Linked DNA regions of Homo sapiens: all the other regions are linked to region 3. Evidence: fine-mapped expression QTL. A gene starts in region 3. Each other region holds a variant in brackets. All regions are shown on one strand. Distances are between the middles of the regions. Region 1 has its middle 7.0 kb from the start of MGAM. Region 2 overlaps MGAM (maltase-glucoamylase). Region 3 holds the start of MGAM2 (maltase-glucoamylase 2 (putative)).

What was found.
Region 1: its variant is fine-mapped to the expression of MGAM2 in whole blood (TOPMed, PIP above 0.99).
Region 2: its variant is fine-mapped to the expression of MGAM2 in tibial nerve (GTEx, PIP above 0.99).

Annotation. Positions count from the first base shown.
Region 1 is chr7:141,985,740-141,992,028 of GRCh38, reverse strand. It overlaps a transcript of MGAM not described here. Among named protein-coding and RNA genes, the nearest start is that of MGAM, 7.0 kb to the left of the region's middle. The variant T/C (reference allele first, on the strand shown) is at 3,204.
Region 2 is chr7:142,062,578-142,067,577 of GRCh38, reverse strand. It overlaps MGAM (maltase-glucoamylase), which reads right to left. Exons shown (of 71, transcript NM_001365693.1): 35 at 4,876-5,000; 36 at 3,992-4,079; 37 at 3,056-3,194; 38 at 2,110-2,243; 39 at 1,956-1,990; 40 at 1,747-1,863; 41 at 857-1,005; 42 at 153-237. Among named protein-coding and RNA genes, the nearest start is that of MGAM2, 47 kb to the left of the region's middle. The variant A/G (reference allele first, on the strand shown) is at 1,968.
Region 3 is chr7:142,108,677-142,114,965 of GRCh38, reverse strand. It overlaps MGAM2 (maltase-glucoamylase 2 (putative)), which reads right to left and starts at 3,248. Exons shown (of 48, transcript NM_001293626.2): 1 at 3,159-3,248.

The sequences.
Region 1 (6,289 bases), 120 kb after region 3:
ATAGCAGGCAGTCATTCATGTTTACAAAGGAAAAATTATTGAACACCTACCCTGCACAACATCTATGATGTTGCCTGACTGTAGCAGTTTAAAGGCTTAGCTCCAAGTCCCTGGATTTAAAAACATGGTTCAGGCCAGACCAAGGTATAATCATTGTGGTGCCTGGAGTGGCTTGCTGTCTGGTGACATGGCCTTATCTAGGCTTGGAGATATTAGAAAAGCATGTCTACTTGGGAGCCTCGAAGACTATGCAAACGTGAGGATTGGAATGTGATTAAAATATCTCCTTTTCTCGGCCAGGTGTGGTGGCTCACGCCTGTAATCCCAACACTTTGGGAGGCTGAGGCAGGCGGATCATGAGGTCAGGAGTTTGAGATCAGCCTGACCAACATAGTGAAACCCCGTCTCTACTAAAAATACAAAAATTAGCTGGGCATGGTAGCGCGTGCCTATAATCCCAGCTACTCAGGAGGCTGAGGCAGGAGAATTGCTTGAACCTGGGAGGCGGAGGGTGCAGTGAGCCGAGATTGTGCCATTGTACTACTCCAGCCTGGGCAACAGAGTGAGATTCTGTCTCAAAAAAAAAAAAAAATCCTTTTCTCCATCCCCAGCCACCACCCTTACCCTAACCATTGTGACCCCACCTCTGGATCAAGCATTAGCCCTGGGGCTGCCTCCTCACTTCCGGCCACAGAAAATATAGCAATAACCACTTCCTCCACACAATTCCATCAATATACAGTCATTATGTGTGTACTACAAACAAGGCACTATGAGAATAACAGTAACAACATCTACAGAGTGCGTACTGTGGCCTATGTTCTATGCTAAATGATTTCCATGCATTATTTCACTTCCTCCTGGTAACTACGCTATGCAGTCGGTACTGTTATTATCCCAGTTTTACAGATGAGAAACCTGAGGCACAAAGGCGACTTGCCCCAGGTCATGTAACTAATGAGAGGCAAACCCAGAATGCAAAGCCAGGCAGTCTGGTCAAGCCTGCACTGAAATATAGATGAGCGTGATTCCTCCATGACCTCATAGCAGAGAGAAGTCAAATGGCTACGATGCTAAAGAGAAGACAGCACCAGCAAATGCTACTGGACAGAGAATACACATGCTGGGAGGGACAGGAAAGAAATCAAAGCCATAGCTGGGTGGAAGTGGGAAGGGAAGGCGAAAAGGAAAGATATTTTGGGCGAAGGGAGCAGCATTAGCCAGACCCACAGGTAAGAAATAACAGAACCGGTGCAGCGCACCAGCATGGCACATGTATACATATGTAACTAACCTGCACATTGTGCACATGTACCCTAAAACTTAAAGTATAATAATAAAAAAATAAAAAATAAAAAAACATAAAAAAAAAGAAATAACAGAACCTGTTTTAGAAACTGCAGTAAAAAGACACAGAGAAGACAGTTGTGAGACAATCAGGGACACTTCTGGGAAAGTACACTGGAGCCACAATGCAGAGATTCTAGCATCTCATCTCAGCAAGAAGATTTTGCAAGCAATAGGGAACCACTGCAGGTAAGAAACTGCCCAGAGCTGTCATAAGCACGAGATAGATTTCTACACAGATTCAAAACACTGGATTATCTGCTTCTTTCAGTTTTTAGTCCAGAAGAATATTACTTCTCCCCACACCTCCAAGCAGACTAAGTATCCACAGGGGACTCTGGAAGCTGCACAGGTGCATGTTCTTTGGAGTGAAGTTGTGTAGATATGAGGAGGGAATGAAATAATGCATGTGAATCATTTGGCATGATACATAGGCCATAGTAAGCATTCTATGTGTGTTGTAATTGTCGTTCTGACATTTCCCCTTTCCCAAGCCACTGGGGTAATAGTGCATTCAAGAATATATTGCTCTGTTTTATAGGTGTGCATTCCCCAAAGTGCTCAGAGGAGTGCTAGCCACTCCTTAAGATGCTGCCCACAGAGCCTCCTCAAACTCTCTGTCAAAGCCAGACCCACATGAAGAGCCCATTCTGAATGCTGAGCCCAGAAGTGACAGATGAGGCCCAGTGTGCATCCTTCCTCCTCCTACATGGAACATGACTTCATGTGTTCTCCCTTCCTGGAATAAAATCCTTGTAGAAAATAATAATTTTATCTGTGTGGATTTTACCAGTAATTAACTATGGGTGGATTAGGTGTCCCTAAAATATCCCTTTAGTATGAAATTGTCAAACATAGTATTTCATTCAAGATAAATCTTTTTTTGGAGAGTATTTTCATGTTAAATTTTCAGATGATTTCAACTGAAAATCTGGGGAATTTTCCATAAAAATTGAGGAATTTTGGAAAATTTGGAGAATGCACTTTAGGGATTCTCAGCCTCCATACAGCAGCAAGAGGATCACTTGAGCCCAGGAGTTTGAGGCTGCAGGGAGCTATGATAGCACCACTGCACTCCATCCTGGGCAACACAGCAAGACCCTGTCTCTAATAATCGAAAAAAAAAAAAAGAAAGAAGAACATGGAGTTTCAAATCAAACTAGCCTGGGCTTAAATATGAGGTCCTCTACTTACTTTCTGCAGAACTTGGACAACCATTTCAATTTTCTGAAGCTCAGTTGCCTTATCTGGAAATCAGGGATGATCATGAGTACTTCATGATGTTACTTTGAGCCTAAGCTGACATAAGTACCTGACATCCAATGTCAGTTTCCCAACCCCTCCTCAGCCAGTCCTTTCTGAAAATGAAATAATATCCAACAAGCAGTATCATTAGCTTAAATTCTGTTAAGAACTATTCCTCCAGTTCCTCAACCCTTAGGAATAGCCACAGTAAACAGTCAACACATCCCACACTGAACTGATTCCACAGGCCAATGGAGAAAAACCACTACTACAAGACTCTCTTTCTCTCTCTCTCTCTCTCTCTCCCTCTTTCTCTCACATACTCATACACACACACACACACACACACACTCACAAGCACATGGCATCTACACCCCCACCTATCAAAATGATTTCTCACAGTCTTCATAGCCTACAAACATTAATTTTTACCTCTGTTTTTATTGCAGCCAAGTTGTTTTCCTTCTTTTGTCCCATATAAAAGACCTTAACATCTCATGCCACCTGCAAAGGGCAAAAAGGAGTTAGTTGGAGTAGGAGTAATTTCTCTGCCCAGAAATGTTCAGAGGAAGGTGAGAGTGGAAACAATGTACACAGGACATTACAGCATT[T/C]CCTTGTCTTGTGAAATGTCTATTATTTAGCAGCTTTACACCGTCTTCTACTCCTTTCCTCTTCACCACCACAGATAAGAACACATGCACACACAAGTATGAGTACAGAGAGAATTTTAGGAATAACACATCACCTAGTATTCACATAAAACTTTACATTTGGCCATGCATGGTGGCTCACGCCTGTAATCCCAGCACTTTGGGAGGCCGAAGCAGGTGGATCACCTGAGGTCAGGAGTTCGAGACCAGCCTGGTCAACATGGTGAAACCCCGTCTCTACTAAAGATATAAAAATGAGTCAGGCATGGTGGCGGGCGCCTGTTATCTCAGCTACTCGGGAGGCTGAGGTAAGAGAATCGCTTGAACTTGGGAAACAGAGACTGCAGTGAGCCCAGATTGCGCCACTGCACTCCAGCCTGGGTGACAGAGTGAGACTCTGTCTCAAAACAAAACAAAAAACGACAACAACTTTGCATTGTGTGACACTTTGCAGTTTTCAGAGTACCTTTTAAATATTTTTGTTTTTTTTTAAGACAGAGTCTTGCTGTGTTGCACAGGCTAAAGTGCTGAAGTGCAGTGGCGCAATCTCGGCTCACTGCAACCTCCTCCTCCTGGGTTCAACCAATTCTTCCACCTCAGCCTCCTGAGTAGCTGGGATTACAGGCATGCACCACCACGCCCGGCTAATCTTTGTATTTTTAGTAGCTATGGTGTTTCACCATGTTGGCCAGGCTGGTCTTGAACTCCTGACCTCAGGTGATCCACCCACCTTGGCCTCCCAAAGTGCTGAAATTAAAGGCATGAGCCACCACGCCCAGCCTCGGAGTACTTTAATCTGTACTATTTCATTGATCACAACAATCCTTTAAGATAAGGCAGGTATTTTTAATGCCCATGTATAAATGAGGAAACAGAAACTAAGAGAAATGAGTTGCTAAAGGTCACTCATATAGTGGTGGGGTTAAAGTCATACTAATTTAATTTCAATCCAGGAATCCAATGTTCATAGGGTTTGAAAGCAGTAAATACAGAAAATGGCTTTTTCAAACTAAATGTTTGTTCATTCATTCAACAAATTCAAAGTGGATTTGCCACCAAGTCTCCCAAACGGGAATCCCTCCAATCCTATCAGTTGTCAAATTCTAGCATCCTCACCTCAGAGATGGCTATTTCTCTTTAAGCTCAAATCTTGTTCTAGAAACCCCCATTATTTCCTCCATGCCCCCCTCCCCTGTGCCTCGCTGACACCTGCATGGTCCACTTCTGTGTGGGAAGCTCAACATAACCCTAACACTCTGATCTCAGCTGAGTGAACCAGCTGGACAGATGATCCGACTTCGTCCAGATGGATTCGCCCTCCCAAAAATTTAGATTTGAGACACAGTGCCTGAATCATACTGCACTGAGTGAGCACTATGTCTGTGGGATTACGGCATGTTATTAAGATACAGAGATTAGTTTTACTGAAAATGCTTGTTTGTCCAAAAGAGAATGGGATACACATGTAGAGAGTAGCAGAAAGAAAACATTCAAACCCACAGAAGGAAAAGCAGAGAGATTAACTGCCAGTATTCTTTTCATTTCTGTGAAGGCCAAGGTACAAGTTAATTTCATGTAATTCTCCTATTTCTTCATCAAAACACTACCTTTACTATGCCTATGACTACCACCACCACTACCAGCACCACCACTATCCTAACTTCCAGTTTCTGTTTCTGTGCCATGTGACAAAATGGTCCCTGCTAGCCCTGCTATGACAGGCTCGTGTTTCGTCTCCATTGTCCAGTATAAATAAATATCTCCACCAAAAATGTCTAATCATAGTCTACCCTATGAGCAAAAAGTTGTCCTCCTGTTATCTGCATTTTTCTGGCTTTTACCACCACCTGCAAGTGTAGGACCTCCAAATCTCCACAAAGTCCCTCCCAATTGTTTGGCATCCCCATTGAGTTCTATTTTTTTAGATGAGGGTACACATACCCTAGGAGGTATGTGGTGGCATATTGAGAGGGTCATAATGCATTTTCTTGGAAATACCATTTTAGTTCAAGATTATTGGAGAAGAGTAAGTAATTTCAATCAATATTTTGAATTGCTAAAATTGTGGCAGTATAATATAATAGTATGCAAATGTACACAATTGTTTTTCAACATCAAACACTAAATTCTGCAGAAATTTTCCCCTATAATGAGCCACTGGTAGGTATATTTCCCCTCAGTCCCCTACCCCAAGGGAAAAATGTGAAAAGAATGCCATAGGAAATGTCTTAAATTCACAAACAATGTCTTACAGCCATGTACGGTCTCTGTCATGTTTGCTGTCTTCTCTGGCTTGGCATCCTTCCTCCAGGTACCTCCCTCTCCTCCTGGTCTGCTCTCCGGGAATTGCCATGTCCACACTGTCTCTGGGTATGGCTTGAGCTCCCGTGTCTGCAGACAGAGAAAGAACCCTCCAAGTGCCAGAGCTACACAGTGTTCTCTTATGTGAAATCTGCTACGAAGAAGCACGAAAGGGCTGTCATCCAATGGCTTACAGCTCTATCAGCTTTTACTTAAAACCTCCTCACCCTTAGCTCATGTTTGTGAACAAAATAAAACTTTAAGAGGGGTCCAGAGATCCCTCAAAAGGAATCCCCACCCATGGGTCCCTGCTGAGAAAACTGATCTTATGTCCCTAATCACAAGGTTCCATGCTGCCATTAAAGATGCTGGGGGGAGGAGCCAAGATGGCCGAATAGGAACAGCTCCGGTCTACAGCTCCCAGCGTGAGCAACGCAGAAGACGGGTGATTTCTGCATCTCCATCTGAGGTACCGGGTTCATCTCACTAGGGAGTGCCAGACAGTGGGCGCAGGTCAGTGGGTGCGCGCACCGTGTGTGAGCCGAAGCAGGGCGAGGCATTGCCTCACTCGGGAAGCGCAAGGGGTCAGGGAGTTCCCTTTCCTAGTCAAAGAAAGGGGTGACGGACGGCACCTGGAAAATCGGGTAACTCCCACCCGAATACGGCGCTTTTCCGACAGGCTTAAAAAACAGGGCACCACGAGATTATATCCACCACCTGGCTTAGAGGGTCCTACGCCCACGGAG
Region 2 (5,000 bases), 47 kb after region 3:
TGATGGACTTCAGCTCAGAAAGAGAGGAAGAGACACAGGTAGAATAAGAAACCATGTCTCAGGACCCCCACCAGCTCAGGCCTCTTCTCCTCGTCCTTTTCCCCAAGCCTCACAGCTGGGATCCTCCCCTCATCGGAGGCCTCCATACTCACGCGCTCCAGGACAGGGCTGACCAGGAAGGCTGGGCCCAGCAGGAACTGACTGTCTATGTCCCATGTCACCTGGTCTGACACAAACCTGGAAAGGGAAATGAAGGTGCCCAACAGAGCCCAACAGAGCCCCAGCCCGACACTCTGAAGAAGCTCCTCAAGTTCAGATCCAAGTCGGAAATACAGCTGCCCCTGAGCCATCCTTGCTTTGTTCCTAGGCCTAGCTTCATCAGGAGCACCCAGCCTCTGCTTTCCCCATGGGATGTGCCTCAAACTTCAGAAATGCTGGGATGTAGATGTGTTCTCTCCTGTAAAATATTACCTCATTTCTTAACCATGGCACATTTTAAATGTGAGGATGGCCCTCGTCCCTCAATTCTCTTGCTGAAATCCTTCTTTTGTGACCTGGGTCCATATAACAAAACTGCTACATAAGATAGGCCTTTGCACAACCAAATTAGAATGAAACTATTCTATGCTGTACTGCATCATTTCAATTTTCGTCATTCAATAAATACCCTTTTTTTATGACCTACGGTATGTATAACACTGTGCTAAAGACAGTAATCAGGTATACTTTGTGTCTGAAGAGCTCATGTCAAAAGGCCATCATGTCTTTAATTTGGAAGCGTTGTGTATATCAACTGCTACCACATAGAATGCAATAAGTCATCCATTAGTCATCGGGATCCCTGCTGGACACTCACTCATGGAGCAGAGGCCGCACAACAGTGACGCCCTCCGTGTGGGCCTTTTGCATCAAGGTATACAGATATGGCAACAGGGTGTATCTGGTCTGCAGGACATTTCTGGAAATATTCACAAAAGCAGCATCCCAGGACACAGGGTCTTGTCTCTAAAGGAGAAAGAGAACAGTGTTGGGAGCTCGCCCTGGAATTTCTAGGGGATTTAAGAAGGTCACTAAAAGCATACTCCAATTGAAGATCACTCACAGCTAAACAAAAGAAAACTATACATGAGGCCCAGAGAATATTCTTAATAGACCGGAAAGAGTCACCAAAGCTCTCCTAAGACAGCTGATAAAATTTCACTGTAAGACATTCTTTTTGGAACATTTGGTAAAATTCTGCCTGAAATACAGGAAAAAAATAATAATCTAAAGCACAATGAGGAATATGGTTCATTGAGACACCAGGTCTTCACAATTTTTAAGGGTGCAGTGGCTCACGCCTGTAATCCCAGCACTTTTGGAGGCTGTCGAGTGGATCGCTTGAGCCCAGGAGTTCGAGACCATCCTGTGAAATATGGCAAGATCCCATTTCTACAAAAAATCAAAAATTAGGTAGCCACGCTGGGATGTGCCTTTATCCCAGCTATTCAGAAGGCTGACGTGGGACAATCGCTTTAGCCCCAGAGGTGGAGGCTGCAGTCAGCCATGATTGGGACACTGCACGATTCAGCCTGGCCAACAGAGTAAATCCCTGTTTCAAAAAAAAAAACAAAACAAAACAAAACAAAAAAAAACACCTTTTTTTAAAGATATCCCAGGAAATAGAGACTGCATTACTTTTAGCACAGAAATGGAGACTGTCTTTCAAGTGACATAAAACAGTGGAGGTAGAAGCCACTGTCCTACCCTGGTCCCAATGGTATTGTGGTTTCTTGAGAAGGGGTAAAAGGCCCCCAGCTGCATCCAGCGAACACACATCTCGTACTCAGCGTCTTGAAAGAACCCACAGATATCTGCTCCCGTCTGAAACAAGAGGAAATAAAAGGAGCCTGCTGATGATTTCTGAAAGATGTCCCCACCTTCTTGGTGCTTAGGAGGATCCCAAGGACACTCACATAGGATATGCC[A/G]AAGAGGCTGAACTCCATCATGCCTGCAACGAGAAGCACAGCTGTGTCACACCAGGCTCTCATGATCTGCCTCCTCACCTCTTCCCTAAGGATCCCAACTCCCTGCCCTGTCGGCAAAGGCCCTGGGGAAGGACCCACGCACCAATGATAGACTTCTTCAGCTGATCCCATGCGGCCGTGTTGTCTCCCAGCCAATGTCCTGCCCAGCGGCCAGAAGAGGGAAATGTGGAGCGGGTGATGACGACCCCTCGCTGTCCCGTCACCTCCTGCACGGCTCTGCTTGGAAGGGAACAGGAGGTGAACTGAGGCAACAGCCAGGGAGTAAAGGCCATAGAGCTTCTGCTCCCAGAGCCCTTGAGCCTAGTCAATGTTTGCTGCGTGACTGGAGGGAACATGGGACTCTGAGCTGTAATAGGAGTTCCACTGATCCCAGATGATGGAGATAATGAGTCACGTGTTCTCACAGTGCTTTACAAAGAACTTCACTGTAGCAGCCTCACTGGAGTACTCCCAAAATACTAAGGAATTACTATGTCTTGCTAATGGTTTCCTCAATACTTAGTTTTCTATATTTGAGAAGGAACACAGTGAAGGTTATAAGATCCTCTTAGAAGAATTCATACTATTCATTGAGCTTGCAAAGCAGGACTGTGCTAATTCAGTACAATACCAGTTACCCTCCACCAAGAATGGCCAAAAATACAAACATCTCCAAAGATGATTCACTTTGAAATGAACGGGAGAGATGCCCAGTCCTCTGTGTTCCCTTCACCTCCTGTAACTAAAGCTATTGTTCCACTGGCTGCCCTGTGTGACCATTATGGTGTCTCCATGTGAGTCTTTCCCACTAGGATCATTAAGTTTTTCACTGGTGGGACCATGCCTTATTTAAATCTGTCCTCCTACTTTTAATCACAGGGCCTGGCTCCATGTCAATGAGCATTTGTTTAATAAATAAGAATCATTACAGAGTTATGAGAATCTTCTTAATCCTTAGAAATGGAATGAAAGGAAAACTAGGGTAGCTATGTCAGTCACTGGCAATCGCTATAGGTTGTGACAGCTGGAGAAGGGAGACGGAGACTCACTCGTATGTGGGTCTGGTCTGGGACCACCCATACAGGTTGTGCACGTTGTAGTGCTGCACCAGGGAGCCGTCTGGGAGGATCTGCTGACTCTCCATACAAAGGGTCTTGCTGCTCAGGCCCCTGTCCCTGGACTCCAAATCTGAGGAGGAAGAACTGGCGAGGTGAAACCCAGCCCTGATTCTGTTTCTCCCTGACTTCTCTTCAAGGGACTGGGCCCTGGATCTTAAGACTAACTTCAGTCCTGCCTGTGTCGCTCTCCATCTCCCCAGAGACATGAGCACAGCGCCCCCAGCTCTGAGCTGCATTGGCGCCTGCTGTGTTTCCAACATCAAGTTCACTGAAGGAAGCAGAGGTGTCAGGAAGAACGTACAGCTGTCAAACACTACATGACGGGCTCTGATTTAGGCTTTTGACTTCCAATTATTTCCATAATTCTATGAAGAAGATCTCATTATCCGTCTTTTACAATTTAGCAAACTGAGATTTGGAAATATCACATAATCTGTGAAAAGTCACAAAACTCCTAGAGAGAACAATTTCTGGAGCCAAGATATGAACCCAAGTGTAACTCCAAAGTCCATCAGCTCCATGATAAGGGGAAGCCAGTAATTTCCACTCACTGATGACACAAGAAATTCCTGTGATGGAATTCACACAAGCCTAAAAACTAAGAAACTCAGCTGTGAGAACCCTTTGTGCCATGAGCTCTGCTAAGTGCTTTCTGGACAAATTTCAAGAAATTTGCTCAATGAGTCTAGTCACTTGCCCATGCCCGGCTGGGTAAAGCACGTGCAGAGCTTTTGTCTCTGGTCCCCAGTAAACCACAGCAGCCATGAGGATGTGCCCTCAGCTGTGGGGCTGCCCCTGGCCTCGGGCTCCTCCAGTGTAATCCTTCCAGTCATGGCTCTGCCAGTCAAGGAGGCCAAGGCTTCTTACGTGGCATGTAGGGAGGGTGGTTCAGAGAGGCGTCCCTGCAGCCTGGAGAAACTGCCCCATTCACGAAGCTTGATGGTTCATTCATATCCTAGAAATGCCAAACACAGACATACCTCACTTTTTAAGATAATTACGTCCTGCCAATTCTGAGCCAAGGAAGTAGTGAATAAATTGTTCAACATCCAGTAATCTCTGTAGATGCCAGCCCTGGGAGCTTCATCAAATCCTGGTGAGAACTGGCTAGAAAGATTAATTCACTCCTACAGAACGACTGGCTAGAGGGGTAAAAAAATAGATCTCTTTCAGGGTGGCTGTGAGGCAATCAAATTTCCAGAAATTCCTAGTAAATTGCCTCCCAGGTTTTTTTTTTGGTTTTGTTTTTCATTCTTTGAGATGGAGTTATGCTTGTTTCCCAGGCTGGAGTGCAATGGTGCGATCCTGGCTCACTGCAAACTCTGCCTCCTATGTTCAAGCGATTCTCCTCCCTCAGCTACCCAAATAGCTGGGATTATAGGCATGTGCCACCACACCCAACTAATTTTGTATTTTTAGTAGAGACGGAGTTTCTCCATGTTGGTCAGGCTGGTCTCAAACTCCCAACCTCAGGTGATCTGCCCACCTCAGCCTCCCAAAGTGCTGGGATTACAGGCGTGAACCACCACGCCTGGTCCCGCCTCACAGGTTTTACAGTAGGAGCGTCAGGTCTGGTAGAAGGTGTGAGGGCTACCAGGGCAGTTCCTCTCCTGAGAGGAAGAAGTGTCTGCTATGTCCAAAGTCTTCTTTGGACAATGACTATCCTCTTGATTGAAGGTCAGTGGTACATATACTTAGGCACACAAAGATAGACAAGAGCCACTGGTACACAGAGACACACACACACTTACAATCCACATGCCATCAAACTTCAAGCTCCTCTCTGGATTCTGTGGATTGTTGTATAGTTCTTCTATTTCCCTCTTCCACCACTTGGCAGTTGAATTACGGAAAAAGTCTGGGAAGGCCACATAAG
Region 3 (6,289 bases):
GGGATTACAGCATGAGCCACCGTGCCTGTAATTTAAAAAATTGTTCCTTCTATCCTTCTTTTCAGGCCTGACTCTATTACCTACACTCTTATTCTCATGCAGTATCATCTCTGATATCACCCAAAAAATAATGATTTTGCAGAAACTATTCTCTCTCTCTGCTTCTCAACCCAAGCGTTTCCACAAAGGTTATTCACATCTAGGTAAATTCTTATTTTTCCCCCTCTATTCTCAATGAAACAGTTTTTCCTCTTCTTGTTTAAGCATAATCCTTGTATCTGTTATCTAGATCTCACAGCTGTTGAATTTCTCAAAAATTTCATTCCACCAATTATCTCTTATTGTCTTGCATTATCAAATTCACTCTCTGAATATCTTTCCTTCATAAATATACCCCAAGTCACCCCAAACTCTGTTAATGACTCTGTGTGCTTCTGCAGGTAGCATAATAACATTCTTTTTCTTTCCAGTGCCAATCTTCCAAAACGATAGTTCCACACTTTCTGTATTCCCTTCCTCATGTGTTATTGGCTTGGCTGTGTTTTCTGCATTCCACTGGAAATGCTCCCACCGAGGTTACTAGTGACATAGTGGCTGAATACAATGGGCGCTGTCTTAATCACTTAACCACTTTCTCCTCCATGAAACTTTCCACATATGGATTCCTTGATAGGAATCTTGGCTTTCCACCTCTATTTCTGGCTTATCTTCAATATTCTTTGTAGTCTCCTATTTCTTTCTTTCTTTCTCTCTTTCTTTCTTTCTTTCTTTCTTTCTTTCTTTCTTTCTTTCTTTCTTTCTTTCTTTCTTTCCTTCTTTCTTTCTTTCTTTTTTTGAGATGGAGTCTCGCTCTGTTGCCCTGGCTGGAGTGCAGTGGCGCGATCTCGGCTCACCGCAACCTCCGCCACCCAGGTTCAAGTGATTCTCCCGCCTCAGCCCCGCGAGTAGCTAGGACTACAGGCACCCGCCATCATGCCCAGCTAATTTTTATATTTTTGTAGAGACAGGGTTTCACCATGTTGGCCAGGTTGGTCTTGAACTCCTAACCTCAGGTGATCCGCCCGCCTTGGCCTCCCAAAATGCTAGGATTACCTGCGTGAGGCACCACGCTCAGCCCTATTTCATTAAATGTTGATGCCCCCCAAATTCTGGTATAGGCTTCTTTTTTAAACTACGCAGACACGTTGGGTAATCTCCACCACTCATGTGACTTTATATGACATGTGATGGCAATCCAACCTGTATTTCTAGCCCAGGGATTTAGATTCATATATTCAACTGCCTATTGGATGTCCCACAGATTCAATAAGATTTAACATGTTTAAACATGAAATCATCTCTCCCCACACCTCACTCCCAGTTCCTGCCAATTTGGCCAAATTATCTGTTCTTCAAATAATTAATAACTTGAGGAATAGAATCACATTATAAAAAAAAAACCTAGGAATCTTTTTTTAATTCCTCTCATTCTGTTAGTTCTCACAGCCAGTTAACAGTTCAGTCAGACTACTTTCCCGGTATCTTTGGGTCATTACCCAAGTGACCAGCACAAACAGGGTCATTTGGATCTCCTATATTCAAGCCTTTAATGGATCTCTGAATAAACCAAAAACCCTTTAGCTTTGTGATCAAAGGTCTTCATGGCACGTCCTAACCCCAGCTGCTCAGCGTCTCCTCTCCCCATATTCCCACCATACTAAACCAGCACTTATGCAGCAACAAGCTATTAAATATAAGTCAGCAGGGACAAAGACTGTTCTCTCTCTTATTTTTATGTTGATTTTGCATCTCCTCTTACTTTTCATTTCCCTGCCTCCCTGCTCTTCTCAACTCCTCCCCAATGCCACGACCATTTCTACAAATATTTTTATATAGGTATATAGCTTCAATTTTTAATTACAGTAGCCTTTAGGTTAATGTGTAATAATTCCATAAAAGAAGCACTTTAATATTGAAATAGAGGTAAGGAACTAGGACCTACAGGTAATTTGCCAACAGGCATTTAGGAAGAACCCTTAGCCCTTGGAGACACGAGGTTTGGGATTAAAATTGAGGTTTATTAACTATTCTTTACTATTTACCTAAATTAATCAGTTGTCTCTCTTTTAGTCTAAATTATTTAAAAGATATACTCTAATCCCTATAAAATATATATCATATGACTGTATTCTCATAAAATCCCTGCATTGAAGCTGATCAGACAGATATCATGATTTCCATTTTATAGATGAATATTAAGAAATTTTGTCTAGTCACGGTTAGTGGTGGAACTGAGACAAACACCGAGAGCCGCTACTTTTTAAAATAGTACTTGAATACTCTCTCGACAATGTATCCTAGGCTGCAGAGCTTAAAGACTTAGAGGATCGGTCTCCAATGGTGGAATTTCAGGTAGAGAAAGAAGTAGGAAGGACCTACCCTAAGAGTGCTATGGTATCAAACTTCGTTTCTTATACATACAGCCCACAACTCAATACCACAGCAAAGGCATTATTCATCAATTGGTCTCTTTCTGCAAGTATTATTTCTCTCCACAGGGAGACTTTTTTCTTTCTAGCTTCTAAAAATCAGCAGCAGGGACCTACTCCACAGCTCCTCAATCCTCCTGAGGGAGCAGGTTCAGCACCTTAGCTCAGGAAGTACAGGAACGCTCTGGGAATAACCCTGGGTATTTTCCTGCCTTAGGAGCTATTGTCATTCAGGCAGAGGACAGGATGGGGATTCCTAAAGGTAGAAATTCTTGCCTACTTAGAAACCCTTCCTGCCCAAAGCTGGGAGGAATTCACCTTCCTCCAAATCCATGCCATCTTGAGATAGTTTCCAGAAGGATCCCATCTGTTTCCTCTGTCCTTAATTTCTCCCAGTGAGAGAGGAGGATCTCACACCAGACCTCCCCCAACCTGTCCTCCAAACACTGACACCACACACACACACACACACACACACACACACACACACACACACACAGTCTCTCCTCTCCATCAACTATCTCATCCTCACTCCTCATATTTTATGGAAAAGGAAGAAAATATTAAGTCCAGAAGGAAAACATGGGCATCCAGATCACTTAACAGAGCAGCAGACAGAAAATCACACAAAAAGAAAGGGACCTTCCTGCCCTTGTTCAAAGCCCTGCTTGCATGGAGAAGCGTACTCACCGCATCACCTTGTTTTTTTCTATGCTGTATCTCTCCCTCAGCAATTCATAGGGAGCACTGAGCAAAGGTAACTGGGCTGAGGTAGCCAGCTTCTGCCACAATTAATTTATTGCCTTATAAAGTTGACAGCAACTGGAGGAGGGGAGTGCATATTCCAATAGGTCATAAAAGAACGCTTGTTCTCCATGTGACACAGAATGAAAGCTCCTTTTGTTAATAAAAGGGGAAGGTGGTTTTTTTTCTACTCATTGTCCCTCTTCTGTATCCCTGTTCATATCTGATTACTTGTCACGTTATGTTTCCTCATCTATACATGTAGCCTAAAGGGCTCAAGAGCTAGGGTCTTGTCTATCTTCTTCACTGTTGTATCTCCTGTGCTTAGCACTCTGCCCAATATCCATAGTTCTTTTTAAATATATAGCTATTTATTTAATAAGTAAGTGAAAGAAGGATTAGCTCTTAGTTCATCACTTTGTTCTTTTCTCCATTTTCATCCTCCAGAGTTCTCTTGGTATAACTCAGCTTTTCATTAATTCAAATGATCCTTTCCACCAATTATTCTAAATAGTGAAGTACCATTAAAGTAGCAATTATACAAACCCGTCCAGGTGCAGTGGCTCACACCTGTAATCCCAGCACGTTGGGAGGCCGAGGTGGGCGGATCACCTGAGGTCAGGAGTTTGAGACCAGCCTGGCCAACGTGGTGAAACCCCATCTGCACAGCCAGGCATGGTGGCAGGCGGCTGTAATCCCAGCTACCCAGGAGGCTGAGGCAGGAGAATCGCTTGAACTCAGGAGGTGGAGCTGGCAGTGAGTTGAGATTGCCCTATTGCACTCCAGCCTGGACAACGAGAGCAAAACTCCATCTCAAAAAAAATAAAAGAGAAAGAATGTATACAAACCTAAAGTGGGAAGATGCCTCTAGTGGACATTTGTCATGTTCTTCGATGGCTCAGCATCTTTCAAAACCTCTTGCTAAGATGGGGGAGGTGGGGAGGGAGACAAAGGTAGTAACACTACCTATTGGGTACTATACTCACTACCTAGGTGACAGGTTCAATCACACCCCAAACCTCAGCATCACACAATATACCCTTGAAATGAACCTGTATATGCACCCTGAATCTTAGACCCTGAATCTAAAATAAAAGTTGAAAAAAATTTAAAAACGGAGGATCTTTCTTTAAAAAGAAAAAGAAAACCTCTTACTTAAATCAACTTAAGGACTTTTTCTCCAAATTCTGCCTCCCCAAAGAAACAGCTAGAAATTCTCTTTCACAGCCTTTCTTTCATCCAAGGTAGAGGCAAGTGGCTGGAGCTTTGTGAATGAGATATTCCTGTGAGTGACTTACATCCAGAAGAAGGTGTAGATAAGGAGGTACCATGTAAAATCCAGGATGTTGGAAGCATAGCTCGTTTCAGAGGCAGCAGGGACAAGAGACCTAGTGGCATCCTATGCTCAGTATTTGGGGTTGCGAGCTGCCAGATATGTGCTCAGGGCAGTGGCAGTAGAAACCGCTACAGGGTAACCTGGGGCTTGTCCCTAGCCACATGGCCTACAAACCTGACTCTCTAGTCCTACCGGAGTTTCAATGAGTCACCAATATCTTTTTAAAATTTTTCTTAAGCCAGCTAAAGTGGATTTTTAAATTGACATATAATTTCCAAACCATAAGATTCACTCTTTTAAAGTATACAATTCAGTGTTTTTAAAAATATATTTACAAAATTCTGAAACTATCACCACTATCTAATTCCAGAACATTTTTGCCACCCCCAAAAATAATTAGTGGTCACTCCCCATTCCCATCTCCCCCTGTTTCTGCAGCCACTAACCTACTTTCTGTCCTTATGGATTTGCCTATTGTGAACATTTCATATAAATGCAGTAATACAATATGTGGCCATCTGTGTCTGGCTTCTTTTACTTGGCATGATATTTTCAAAGTTCATCCACACCATTTCAGGTATCAGTGTCTGTTCCTTTCCATGTCTGGATAGTATCCACTGCGTGGATAGACCACATTTTGTTTAGGCATGTATCAGCTGATATACATCTAGGTTGTTGATACTTTTTGCCTGTTATGAACGATGCTGCTATGAGCTGACACGTTTTAAAATTCTGCCTGGAATATACCTAGGAGTGGAATCATGGGTCATGTGACAAGTCTTTAACTTTTTGAAGAACTGCAAAACTGCTTTCTAATGTGGCAGCACCATTTTACACCCCCATTCCTGCCAGTAATATATGAGGGTACAGAGAGCTCTTTTGGTGGCACCTAAGAACTGTAAATAACAGTGTTCACAGTAGTGAATCTTTTGTGTTTGCTTCAAATGCTCAGTATGTGGAAAAGCACACATACACACACACACGGAGAGAGAGAGAGAAAGTGAGAGAGAGAGAGGGAGGGACAGAGAGAGAGAGAGAGAAAGAGAGACTCGGTTTCTGCATTTATGAACTGCTGGAATGACATATTCAGCTTTTCATTTGCCCCAGTACAAGGTGGCCTTTGTTAGAGGGGAAATGTACCAAGATCTCATTTCAAATTGGGAAGACATCCTGGCAAAAGGTCAAGAAGGGAGATTTTATTGTTACATAAGATCTATTTTTTGTGTGATATTTTACCTTTAACTCCCCACATGCCATGCACATTTGTGACTTCATTTATGTTAATAGTGGTAACCAACAGGCCCAGCTAATCTATAACCTGTTTCCTAAAGTGCAGAAAATAGCTACCTTCACCTTCCATTCTTGCTAACTAGTAACTGGAAGATATTGAATCACCATACTGGTGTTGACCAATGAGAAAATAACAGAGCCACTTTGAAGGGTAGAGACAGGCACGTGACCCGACATCTTCCAGTTGTCTATCGGTAACAAGGCACGGCAAAGTTAGCTATTGGCGGAACTCAAACAGTTGTCACAGCAAGCTGCTGGTTGGAATCATCAGATCAGAAACTAGTAATATGAGTCACCCTTAACTTCCAGAACACCTTTCTCCAAGGCCAGATGCAAAACTCTCAGTGACTCTGCCGCTATGACAAGAACAAAGAAATATTGATGAGATCTTGAAGACATCTGCCACGGCCAACATAACCTTATCTTTGCAGGTATATATGACATTTAATGT